Regions from separate parts of the Homo sapiens genome. Here all the other regions are reported to be linked to region 3. Evidence: microRNA targets listed by miRTarBase, many of them from high-throughput screens and not tested one by one. Region 3 holds a microRNA gene; each other region holds the end of a gene's coding sequence. Distances are between the middles of the regions.

Region 1 (4,108 bases), not on the chromosome of region 3:
CACATCTCCAAGGACCTCCAACTGAGAACCAGTGACTGAAGAGAAATAAGCTTCACTGCTCCATTGCTTTTCAAAGATATTTTGTCCAAAGCATACTGTCTTCCTCTAAGAATCCCTTCCCATGGGCAAGCCCAGCCCCCAGTCTGAGACGGCCCCACCCAGCTAGCCATGCTGGTGTGCAACTATCCACTCCCTTGGTGAAGACCCAGCCCACCAAACCAGAGTCCTCGCCTCACTTTCAAACTACAGAACTCCAGGCTGTTAGAGCCTCGCAGAGCAGAGGATGCCTGCGTGAATCCCAGTCTCAACACCAGCTTTGTTGGGGTGGGAGTGGTGGTGGCGGCGTCTGTCATCAGTGGTTGGCCTTTTAATGTGGACTTGAGGTGAAAAACTTCTGGCTGGTCATCATTTTTAAAGGGATGAGAGGGGATGAAGTGGTGCCCTCCCCGACCATGGCTAAATTGTCTTCCTCTCTTACAGAGGGAGACACAGCTGTTGGCGGGGATGCATGCTCACTATCGAAGCTCCAGTGGCAGAAAGTCCTTTCCAGCCCCAATCTATGGACAGACATGACTCTTGTCCTGCACTGACATGAAGGCCTCAAGGTTCCAGGTTGCAGCAGGCGTGAGGCACTGTGCGTCTGCAGAGGGGCTACGAACCAGGTGCAGGGTCCCAGCTGGAGACCCCTTTGACCTTGAGCAGTCTCCATCTGCGGCCCTGTCCCATGGCTTAACCGCCTATTGGTATCTGTGTATATTTACGTTAAACACAATTATGTTACCTAAGCCTCTGGTGGGTTATCTCCTCTTTGAGATGTAGAAAATGGCCAGATTTTAATAAACGTTGTTACCCATGTCCTCCAGTGCTTATCAAATGAGGTAAAAGGCCGGCTGGTGGGCATGGTAACTCCCCCCTGTAATCCCAGCAACTTTGGGAGGCTGCAGTGGATGGCTTGAGCTCAGAAGTGTGAGATCAGCCCAGGCAACATAGATACCCTGTCTACAAAAAAACCAAAAAATTATCCAGGTGTGGTGGTACACACCTGTAGTCCCAGTTACTCAGGAGGCTGAACCGGGAGGATTGAGCCCAGGAGGTTGAGGCTGCAGTAAGCCCCGATCATGCAACTGTGCTCCAGCCTGGGCCAAAGTAAGACCCTGTCTCAAGGCGGGGGGGGGAGTCACAGCTTCGCTGTGAGAAGCACTTTATTTTTTGAGACGGAGTCTCCCCGTCACCAGGCTGGAGTGCAGTGGCACGATCTTGGCTTGCTGCAAGCTCCGCCTCCCGGGTTCTAGCAATTCTCCTGCCCCAGCCTCCCAAGTAGCTGGGATTATAGGTATGCACCACCACACCAGGCTAATTTTCGTATTTTTAGTAAAGATGGGGTTTCACCATGTTGGCCAGGATGGTCTCGATCTCCTGACCTCGTGATCCGACCACCTCGGCCTCCCAAAGTGCTGGGATTACAGGTGTGAGCCACTGTGCCCGGCTATGAGGAGCATTTTAGAGGAGCCTGATGAGTGTTGGAGCAGTCTTTCTCTCCTGTGGAAACCATCTCGAGGAGGTTAGGTGACCCATGGAGCACCATGTCTTGGGTTGGTCAGCTCCAACTTACCAGTGTACCCCCAGGGACACCACGGCCCCTCACGAAACCTGGCCAGAGGACAGCATAGAGCCCAGACGAGTCGGCGGTAGCCCTCCCACCCCACACACAAGCACACACCCGTGCTGCTTCGTGCCTTTGCAAAGCTTTTATTTCATGTCTGCGGCATGGAATCCACCTGCACATGGCATCTTAGCTGTGAAGGAGAAAGCAGTGCACGAGAAGGAATGAGTGGGCGGAACCAACGGCCTCCACAAGCTGCCTTCCAGCAGCCTGCCAAGGCCATGGCAGAGAGAGACTGCAAACAAACAAACACAAGCAAACAGAGTCTCTTCACAGCTGGAGTCTGAAAGCTCATAGTGGCATGTGTGAATCTGACAAAATTAAAAGTGTGCATAGTCCATTACATGCATAAAACACTAATAATAATCCTGTTTACACGTGACTGCAGCAGGCAGGTCCAGCTCCACCACTGCCCTCCTGCCACATCACATCAAGTGCCATGGTTTAGAGGGTTTTTCATATGTAATTCTTTTATTCTGTAAAAGGTAACAAAATATACAGAACAAAACTTTCCCTTTTTAAAACTAATGTTACAAATCTGTATTATCACTTGTATATAAATAGTATATAGCTGATCATTAATAAGGTGTATAAGTACAATGTATTCTAAAACTGTTAAGCAAAAAAAAAAAAAACAAAAAAAAAAATCCAAGTGTCCTCCTCCACCACTCACGCTGGTGATCACTGTGCTCTCTGCCAGCTGCGTGGAGTGACGGGAGGAGGGAATCACTGTGTGTGCGAGAGTGCTTCAGACTCAATTTCCAAAATAATTTTCACCCCTCTAAGCATGTAAATATACAAAGATGGATCCTTCATAGAAATTAAAAAATCAATTTGAGCTCATTTCGAATACAGAACAAGTATGGCACAGATGGAAGTCCTGCCACGTTTCCTTTAATGATGCTGACTCTTGTATCACACAGGCCAGCATGAAGTTTCTTACTCAGACTTTACAGGCATTTTCCGTAATTCAATCAGTCCTGCTCCCAGCACAACACAGGAGGTGATTCGAGAATAATCGCGAGAATCAGGCCTGCTTGGCACTATTACAACTGGGGAAAACAAACCAGGGCGCCTCCCTGGTTCCCAGCCCAGAATGTTTCTGTTGGGTAACTGCTTTCTAAAGGAACTGGGATCTGAGGGAGTTCCTAGACTTGGAGCACTAAAGACACAAGCGTGGCGGGGCTGGCAGCGCCCGCTATGAGCACCCCTCTGCCCTTGGTCCTGGCCTGGCTGTTACAGGGCCTCGAACTCGTCGATGCGCTGCTTGGTGTTGCCCTGCCGGATCTGCCGCAGCGTCTTGTACTTGTCCCGGCCTTGCCTCATGTTCTCGTTGTGGATGATGTCATTGTGGGTCCTCTTATTCTCATCTCGGGCCTGGGACAGCTCGCTGCTCAGCGTCTGTAACATTAAGCAGCATTGGTCTAGTCCCTTCCTCCCCATATGGCCCGGCCCGTCCCCTAGGAAAACAGGAAGGGCAAGAGGGGTGCTGGGTGGGGCTGGCTCACATCACTGCCCTCCCCAAGCCTGTCTGCTCCAAAAGCGAGGCAGGCTCCCTGGAGACAGAGCCCCTTGGGCCTCACCAGCAGCTGCCGCTGCACACGCTCGTTCTTCTCTGCCTCAGTGATGCGCTTCTCCTCATTGCGGTCATCCCGGATGCCCTCACTAGACAGCTCCGCGCTGTAGCCCGTGGGCTCTGCGCCCTCATCCTGCAAGCTCTCCTGGACATGGTAGCTCACCGGCTCGTACACGGGGGGTGGTGGGGGCGGGGGTGCTGTCATCACCAGGTGCAGCTCCTCCTTGGTCTTCACCAGGTCATCCTGGGCTTCTTTGGCCTTTGGAAAGCAAATTAATAAGAGGACTTCTCACCCAGAAGTCCTATCCTCCTGGCTATGAGAACAGACTGTCACCTCCCTCTGTCCTGGCAGGCTAAGGCAGCACTGAACTGTGCTGGGCTGTGGCTTCGAAGAGGAGCACCCTCAGGGTGCATGGGGGGTTTACAACCCTCTGCGTCCAAGACAGGAAGAGGAACTGTGATGCCGGAACCTGGGCAGTTTTAAAACTACCATTTCTTTTTTTACCTGTAACTCTAGACATTATATAATTTTTAGAAAAAAAATCCTGTTAGCATGAGTAACGGGCTCTGTTCCTAGCCTCCCTTCATGCCACAGTCATTATCAAGTGCTCTCCTGCTCGCCACTTGCAGTCCTTCCAACAGCTTCACACACACCCAGTCCCGCCCGCCTCCATCCCAGCCAGCCCTAGAGTTGAGCTTAGTGTGGATCTGCTTTGTAGCCAGCTCTCCTCACTTAACAGGTACTTTCTCCAAAAACCTAAGAACCAAAGTCTTCCGCTTGCAACTTGGGATGGTGATATGGCTGTGTCCCCACCCAAATCTCATCTCCACCTGTAATCCCCCCATGCTGGGGGTGGGGGGCATTACCT
Region 2 (4,108 bases), 37 Mb from region 3:
CTGACAAAGCTGAACCACTGAATCTTTTTCAAGAAACGTCATTTTACATGATTGGCATAGACAGACACTCTCATTAAGACCTTCCATCGCGAGCTTTTCTGCACCTGTTTTTAAGCGTCAACTGAGCTGGAGGCATATGGGTGACCCTACAGTGCCTGAAAAGTAGTTTCTTCAGTGAGTCAGGCAGTTCCCAGAGCCAGAGATGTGTCCCGGAAAACATCCCCTCGTGGAGATCACAGTGGAAATGCCTCAAACACCAGCGTGAGCACCATCTAGATGAGCCTAGTCACGAGGGCCAATGAGGTTTGGGCAAATCTTTGAGCCCCAAGACTGGGCGCAGCATAAAAGGAAAGACATTTTAGATCAGAGCAGATGTAGGGACAGCGTGGGGGAAACAGCCCTCCAGGAACCCGAGCTGCCCGCCCCGTGGTCTAGGGGAGGGAGGGGAGGCTGGGCCATCCTTGTTCTCCTCCTCCCTCTCAGCACTGCCCGGGTGGGCTGGAAGTGCACACTCTGGAAGCCACAGGATGGAGCTCCTAGAGATAGTGAGGCATGACCAGAGGGAAGAGGCATTTGGGGTCCTGTTCAGATCATTCCAACAGCAAACCGGGCATGGAGACCCCATCTCAGGTCTGTGCTTCTCTGGGGGCCACCCAGCCATCCTGCCCACCAGCTCAGAGGCAGGGACAAAGCCCTCCCAAGAGGCAGCAGGCAGCAAGGGTCAGCCAGCGCAGTGGGGACAGGCAGGTATGGGATTCCCAAATGGGACAGCATGGTGACAACCTGGAAACCCCAAAGGACCCCAGATGGCAATGTGACACGGCCCATCCACCAAGCACCTGTAATGCCGGCTTCCCACAGAGGCGAGCCAGATCCTGCAACTGTTCTTAAAGAAATGCAGTTTGACCTTGCCAGTGCCTCCAGAAGCCCAGCCAACAAAACGCGTCCAGAACGTACAGGCCTCTTTCCAGCCGTGGGGGCTGCTACGGTGACTCTTCATAAAAGCTAAACAGATATTTTGTTGACCTTCTAACAAGAATAAATTTTACTAGACTAGTACTTTAGAGAAAGTACTAGCAAAGGGAGAGCTCCTCTCCAGCTTGCAAACAGGACTCAATCATTCCCACACACGTGGCGGGGAAGAAAGATCACAATGTTGCTTGAATGGCAAAAGCTATAGGGAGAATTTCACAATGTCAGTTAAAAAAAAAAAAAAAAAGTGTAGTATTTATATCTTGGGCACAGGTCCAGATCCCTATGGGAATAAAGCATTCAGCTGGAAATCCTTGTCATTGGTCGTGGGGCAGGTGCCCAGCCAGTGTCACTCTGCAGCCCCGTCTGCACTGAAAGGGGCTCTTCAGGCTCGTTGTACCTGGAGGATGCCCACCTTAACCCCAACCCGGGCCCATCGGCAGAGAAGCCCACGGCGCTGCAGACTCGGAAGGGGGAGAAGCCAGGAGGGGATGTCCTTGGAGGTGAGCTGGCTGTCCCAGCAAGGGGGCTCTGTGGAGGGTGGGGGTGGCATGTGGGTCACAGGGTCTGACCCACACCCAGATGGGGTCCAGGTTGCAGAAACCCTTCAGATGTGACAGCTGCCTACAGACCCGCAGCTGGAGAGGGGAACAGGATTGGGGGGTTGAGCCCCAGACGCAGCTGCCCAAGGGCACAGTAGCTGGAAAAGGCCCCAGGGCCAGGCTGGGCCCCCCAAGACTCCAGGGGCGTAAGCTGCTGAGGGACACTGTGCCCCTTCCCCACCCAGGGGCCTGATCAGAACCCGCAAGTCATCCCCCCCTCACCTCTCTCCTCGAGTAAGTGGGGAGGGGAGATAACGACGTCTTCCTTGAACCCCCATTGTCAGCAGAGACCTGGGCTCCGGCCTGGCCCTCAGGCCCGAGGTTTTCCTCAACCAACACAGCAGCATCTCAGCACTGGCTCCTTTGCTCTCCCTGAATTCCTTCTCACTCCTGGCTTCCCACCCCTTTGTGGGAAAATATCTTCTCAAAGGGAAGAGACTGCCTCGGGGCTGCCCCTCCCTCCCCTCACCCCACAGCAGCCATAATCAGGAGAAACCGGGTGGGACCCAAAGTCCCCGCCTCAGTCCAGGAAGTGTGCAGCGCAGTTCTGGCCCGTCCAGCTCTGGCTCTGAGCTTGAACTGGCTGGAGCCCCGCTCACGGTACACTGGCAGCAGGGGCAGGGCAGCCCTGGGCCTACGTCAGCAGATGGGAAAGGCGTTCAGCACAGAAGCAGATAGACGGTTTAGAGCTCCAGAGCTACGGGGGCAATAGCGCCGAATTTTATCAGGATGGCCTCAAGGATGCTACGAATCTTGGCTCCTGGGAACATGGGGCCTCCACCACCGAGTGCGTTCCTGGTAGTAAAGCCTGCCACGTTCAGGAAGGCACTGCCCTGTGGCCAAGACCCTCACCGAGGCTCTGCTCCCACCCCCTACTCTGTCTCTGAGGCAGACCAGCTCCCCAGTCACTGCTGAGCTCCCCCCAGATCCCCCTTTGCCCGACACTTTTCCTCTCCAGGATGAATAGGATGATAAAGGACCCGGACATCACACTGGGAGGTCAGGAGCAGGAGGAACCTGAGGAAGGAGGCCTCGTCCAGAGATGGGAGGGGCTGGGAGGGCATGTAGGTGAGGGCGGAGGCAGGGCTGTGGCCAGACTGGGACACCTGGACCAACAGCACATCTGTGGGCACGTGGCCATGGGGCAGCAGGGCTGGGACTGTCAGGGTCGTGGACGGCACTCCCAAACTGCTGGTACAGGAGCCTTTTCCAGGACAGAAGAGGGGATTCCCTGAGGAGACAAGGAGGAGGCGGCGATGAGCGAACATTCCGTACAGGAAGGAGGGGACGACGCGGACGTCGGGAGCAAGGGGTGGGGAACACGCCTGCCCATGGCTACAGCTCACTGGATACACTCAGGAGCAGGAGGGCACCTGATGTAAGGGTGCCCCACCTTGCGTGGCCCGAGAAGCTGCGCATAGCCACGGCTTTGGTGGGCAGTGGCGTCCAGAGTGCGTGATGGGAGCCGGGGGTGAAGGTCCATATGCCCATTTGTCTTCTGCTTTTTCATAAATCAGGTTGAACACAGAGTGGGTTCGGTTGTACCCCTCCTCTTGGCTCCAGCTGTGACTCTGACCCCTGAAGCCCCATGTGGGGAGAGGGCTGGGAGCTCAGATGGGTCTCTGGTGACTTCCCCAGCAGAAATCCAGGCCTTGATGGGGGCGAGCTGGACCCACGGCCACTCTGCTCAAACCACGTGCCCCCTCAAAGCAGGCAGGGGAAGAGGCCTCCTGGGGTGGTCCCTCACAGTGCTGACTCCCGACAGGGAGGGAGAACACACCTCAGCCCAGGGCCTCCGCCAAAGACACAAGGAGGGAACAGCTGCCTGAGGGCAGGGGAGCAAGGGAGCCCTCAGGAACTCCTCCCTCCTGGGTCAGAAGCGGGCTTGGGCGACTCCCCTTCTGCCTGCGGGAACCAGACCCCATCGGTGGAAGGGAGGCCTAACTAGTACGTCTAGTCCAGTGTCACTGGGAACCCCCTTCCCATCCGCACACAGGCCATCTGCCCCTCCTTCCCCATTGCAGGTCTTCAGGGGCGAGTAGGAGACTCTTTGGACATCCCCAGCTGGCGGCATCTCTCCGGCCATTCTGAGGTTACAAGGCCTCTAGTTCCCTGATCTAAAAGAAACACACGTCCCCCCTCACGGCCACAGCAGGACATTCACTCAACCCACCTTGGACAGGCGAAGGACTCCACTTTCACATTAGTGACCCTGTTTCAACAAAAATCCATACAGGAGTTTAAATAACCAGACAGCACAGGTCCCTTCCACGGCGGCTCTGTGCACTCAGCTCTCAACAGTCTGGTGAGCTCAGGAAGGGATTCAGGACCCCAGGAACAAGCACTTCCCACCTCACATCTGGACCTGGAGTTCTCGATAGTCTGGCGAGCTCAGAAAGGGACTGGGGGACCCGGGAACCAGCCCTTCCCACCTCACATCTGGACCTGGAGCTCTCGATAGTCTGGAGAGCTCAGGAAGGGATTCGGGACCCAGGAACCAGCCCTTCCCACCTCACATCTGGACCTGGAGCTCT
Region 3 (4,108 bases):
AGGAGGCGGAGATTGCAGTGAGCCTAGATAGTGCCACAGCACTCCAGCCTGGGTGACAGAGCGAAACGCCGTCTCAAAAATAAGTACATAAATAAATAAATAAAGACATCCTCAACGTTGCCATAAAGACATGGCAACACCCAAAACGTATTAGCTGGTAAACACCCATGTTCACAGCAGCACTATTCACTATAGCCCAAAGGTGGAAGCAACTGAAGTGTCCACTGACAGAGGAGGGATCAAGATGTGGTATAGCCACACAATAGAGGTTTCTTTTGTTTTTGTTTTGTTTTTTGAGACAGAGTCTCACTCTTTCACCCAGGCTGGAGTGCAGTGGCGTGATCTCGGCTCACTGCAACCTCCGCTTCCTGGGTTCAAGCAATTCTCCTGTCTCAGCCTCCCAAGTAGCTGGGATTGCAGGCGCCTGCCACCACTCCCTGCTCATTTTTATATTTTTAGTAAGGCCAAGGTTTCACCATGTTGGTCAGGCTGGCCTTAAACTCCTGACCTCAAGTGAGCCACTCACCTCAGCCTCCCAAAGTGCTAGGATTGCAGGCGTGAGCCACCACGCCCGGCCCACAACAGAGTATTATTCAGCCTTAAAAAGGAAGGAATTCCTGTCACGTGCTACTACATGGATGAGCTTTGAGGACACCATGCTGAGTGAAGTCAGTGAGTCACGAAAAGGCAAGGACTGTATGATTCCAGTTAAATGAGGCATCTAAAAAGTAGTCAAATTCAGCAGGGCACGGTGGGTCACGCCTGTAATCCCAGCACTTTGGGAGACCACGGTGAGAGGATCACTCAAGGCCAGGAGTTCAAGACCTGGCAATATAGTGAGACCCTGTCTCTACAAAGACTAGAAAAATTAGCCGGCTGTGGGCCTGCAGTCCCAGCTACTCGGGAGGCTGAGGCGAGAGGATCACTTGAGCCCAGGAATTTGAGGTTGCAGTGAGACTCACTCTGATCTGGGCAAGGGTAAGACCTTGTCTCAACAACAACAACAACAAAAAGTATAAAGTAGTCAAATTCCTAGACACACAAAGTAAAATGGTAGTTACCAGGAGCTGGAGGGAGGGGAAAATAGGAAGCTGTTGTTCAGTGGGTATGGAGTTTCAGAGATGCAAGAAAGTTCTGGAGACCTGTTACACAACAGTGTGAATATACTTAACACTACTGAACAGTACACTTAAACATGGCTAAGATGGCAAATCTTATGTGTTTTTTACAATTAAAAAAAGCAAACAACTTATTGGTTGGGTGAATGAACTCAACGTAACTGGTCACCAGGGAAGTCCTCCAAGCCCCTGAAGAGCCAGGGCAGGAAACTGTCCTAAGAGGTAACTGAGGGTGGGGCATGGCCTGTAAAATCTACAGACAGGTTCCTAGCTCCTAGACAGTCACACAGCTTTGTTCTTTTGGGAGCTAGTTGTCTAGAACTTGAGTCTCTGCGGGCAGACCCTGTTTAGGGTCTGCATTTCTGACAACACAGCAGGTGCTGGCATATAAACGCTTCTGCCACAGAGACACAGTACATGTTTGCTGAGTCAGATGAGTGAATGCATGAATAGGAAAGTGAGTGAGTGATCAAGTAGCGTGTTTGCGAAGGTCAGAAAAGAGAGGGGTGCTTGTTATTGGATGTGCTGACTTCTCACAACACACTTGAAGGGTCTGAGAAGGGAAGGCAGGTTACCGACCTCTCATTGTAGAACTGCAGGGTGTTCTCACTAAACAGTGGCCCTGCCAGCTGGCGGATCATCTGCAGCGACTTCTCACGCTCATCCAGCCCCAGCATCCGGACGTGGGCCACAAGCCAAGCCACAGCACACACCGCCAGACTGCATACCTTCCCTTTGATGTTATCAGTGATTTTCTAGGGGAGACGGAAAGGTGATGGGCTACCATCTATCTCCCTTTCTTGAGCCAACATCACCTTCTCAGCCTCTGCGGGCAGCTAAGTGCAGCGGGTGGAGTCCCGGGCCACATTCCACACCTCTCTCCACAAGTTTGATCTTCCCAGAGCTACCTGGGCCAGAGGGAGTAGCTAAGACAACGATTACACAAAATATCAATATCAAAACATGAGCTCCTGGATTAAAGGTCTTCTTGCCCTTACGAAATATAACAAGTCATCACTGGCTGGCTCTGTGTCTCAGGGGAGCAAACGCTGCTGGGAAGGCGGGGCTACCTGGATGGACTCGAAGGCCAGGACCCCATTCTCCCAGGCATTGAGGATTTCCAAGATGGCGGCTGAGATGCTGAGACAGGCCTCATGCCACTTCATCTGCCTGCGGGTGTGCAGAGAAGTCAGCACAGGGGAGCAAGGAACGGGCTCAGGGAGCGGGTCTTGACCCTGCCCCCACCGCCACCCTTGGAGTGGGCGCCCGGGCCACTGACACTAGCTTCATCTCCGAGGAGTTGTTGAGCAGGGCCACCAGGGACTCCACTTTGGTGGAGTCGGGGCGGAAGCAGGGGTGGTCAGGGTTCAGGATCTTGCCCTCCTCAGGCATGCAGGTCTGCATCCAGGTCTCGAAGAAGGGCACCTCAGCTCCTGTGCGCGACTCGGACAGAATCACCTGGGAAAGGGGAAGGGGGGCACCAGCCGAGTGGGGAGGGCGCGGCGCCTGCCAGCGCTGGACCTGGGGCTGCACTGTTTCCCGCCAGGCTGCTGCTCCAGCCCAGCCCAAAGACTGGGGACGAACTGGTCTAAGGGAGCCAGACGGGGGCAATGCTGCCACCTAGTGGTCAATGTGAACATAGGGCTGAAGGTGCCTCTACGGACTCCAGCCCGGGTGGGCACCTGGTTTCTGAGGCCCACAGAACTAACTGGCTGAGAGGCTGCGGGGGCGCAGGCAGTGAGGTGGGGAGAGTTCCGGGTTACCTCCTTCCCTTGAGCCCCCGTCCCGGTCGCTCCCCTCTCTCACCTCTGAACCATAGGTCTGGGCCACATGGCACAGCATGAGGAAGGAGATGTCAAACAGCAGGGCCCGGACGGAGGCCGGTTTGGCTGTGGAAGGACGGGAAGGCTGAGCTCCCAGACGAGGGCAGGGGGGAGCCCGTGTCTGGGTTGACAGGGATCGGGATTTGCCTCTAGGAAGGTCAGGGACCAAGTGGCTCCTTCAAAGCTCTGAGGCTCAGAATCCTTTTCTTGAGTCTCAACTGGAACATCATCCCTTCCTTGAGACCAAAGACCCCCAGCACCCTCTCCTGGCATACCTAACCAAGTCGTAAAGGGATGAGGGGGGGAAGGAGACACAGGGATGGTCTGGGAAGAATCCTTTTCCAGCATTATCCACTTTCAAGCTCTGTGGAAGCTTCCATTGGTCATGGCTCTGAGGAGGGAGCACAGCCTCCCCCTGTTGAGCTGGGGAGCCCTCCTCCCTCCCACACTCTCCCGCCACACCCCTCCTCAGGGCCCACTGGGCCTGCGGATGCACAGGGCTGACTTACTGCTTTCTTCGCTGCCATAGGTTGTGAATTCATTCAAACTGAAAGGAATGGAGACAGGCTGCATTGACCAGGGCATGAGCTGAGCAGTAGCTGGGCGCTGGGGCTACACATGTTCAGAGAGCGATAGCTAGAGTCTGAGTTACTGGTTAAACTTAAAATGAGACACATTGCTATAGAAAAAAGGTTTTTGTGGTTTTTGTTTTTTGTTTTTTTTTTGTTTTTTTTGAGAAAGAGTCTCGCTCTGTCACCCAGGCTGGAGTGCAGTGGCACAATCTCAGCTCACTGCAACCTCCGCCTCTGTTCAAGCAATTCTTCTGCCTCAGTCTCCCAAGTAGCTGGGATTACAGGTGCCCGCCACCACACCCGGCTAATTTTTTGTATTTTTAGTAGAGACAGGGTTTCACCAAGTTGGCCAGGCCGGTCTTGAACTCCTGACCTCAGGTGATCCGCCCACCTTGGCCTCCCTAAGTGCTAGGATTACAGGCGTGAGCCACCGCACCCGGCCAGAAGGATTTTTATTGTTAGAAGATTTCCAAGGCCTAGAGAATGGCTCACTGAATGGAACCATGTTCTATATATGTCAAATTCCAGGGCAATCAAAAAAGGCAACAGAATTTGAGAGCCCCTTATTAATAACTGGGCATACTTGGAATTCCTC

The links. The annotated mature microRNA hsa-miR-6884-5p reads AGAGGCUGAGAAGGUGAUGUUG and lies in region 3 at 1,925-1,946, opposite strand. An mRNA with a match to its seed (bases 2 to 7 or 8) in the 3' UTR can be bound and repressed. Matches are read on the target gene's strand: a 7mer-m8 pairs with bases 2 to 8, a 7mer-A1 pairs with bases 2 to 7 and ends in A, and an 8mer does both.
Region 1: miRTarBase lists SYTL3 as a target of hsa-miR-6884-5p. The part of its 3' UTR that is shown has no 7-base or 8-base seed match.
Region 2: the mRNA of RAP1GAP2 is a reported target of hsa-miR-6884-5p. Seed matches in the 3' UTR shown: 7mer-m8 at 447-453.

What each region holds. Positions count from the first base shown.
Region 1 is chr6:158,764,015-158,768,122 of GRCh38, forward strand. SYTL3 (synaptotagmin like 3) reads left to right here. Exons shown (of 18, transcript NM_001242394.2): 18 at 481-857. The coding sequence ends at 590. It overlaps EZR (ezrin), which reads right to left. Exons shown (of 14, transcript NM_001111077.2): 13 at 3,247-3,498; 14 at 1,734-3,064. The coding sequence ends at 2,900. It overlaps MIR3918 (microRNA 3918), which reads right to left and starts at 739; the gene lies at 647-739.
Region 2 is chr17:3,032,089-3,036,196 of GRCh38, reverse strand. RAP1GAP2 (RAP1 GTPase activating protein 2) reads right to left here. Exons shown (of 25, transcript NM_015085.5): 24 at 3,748-3,786; 25 at 1-2,805. The coding sequence ends at 3,778. Among named protein-coding and RNA genes, the nearest start is that of OR1D5, 29 kb to the left of the region's middle.
Region 3 is chr17:40,024,459-40,028,566 of GRCh38, forward strand. It overlaps MIR6884 (microRNA 6884), which reads right to left and starts at 1,951; the gene lies at 1,874-1,951. MED24 (mediator complex subunit 24) reads right to left here. Exons shown (of 26, transcript NM_014815.4): 15 at 3,451-3,488; 16 at 2,925-3,007; 17 at 2,398-2,576; 18 at 2,189-2,288; 19 at 1,698-1,873. SNORD124 (small nucleolar RNA, C/D box 124) reads right to left here and starts at 3,187; the gene lies at 3,084-3,187. RefSeq lists an enhancer at 2,189-3,099.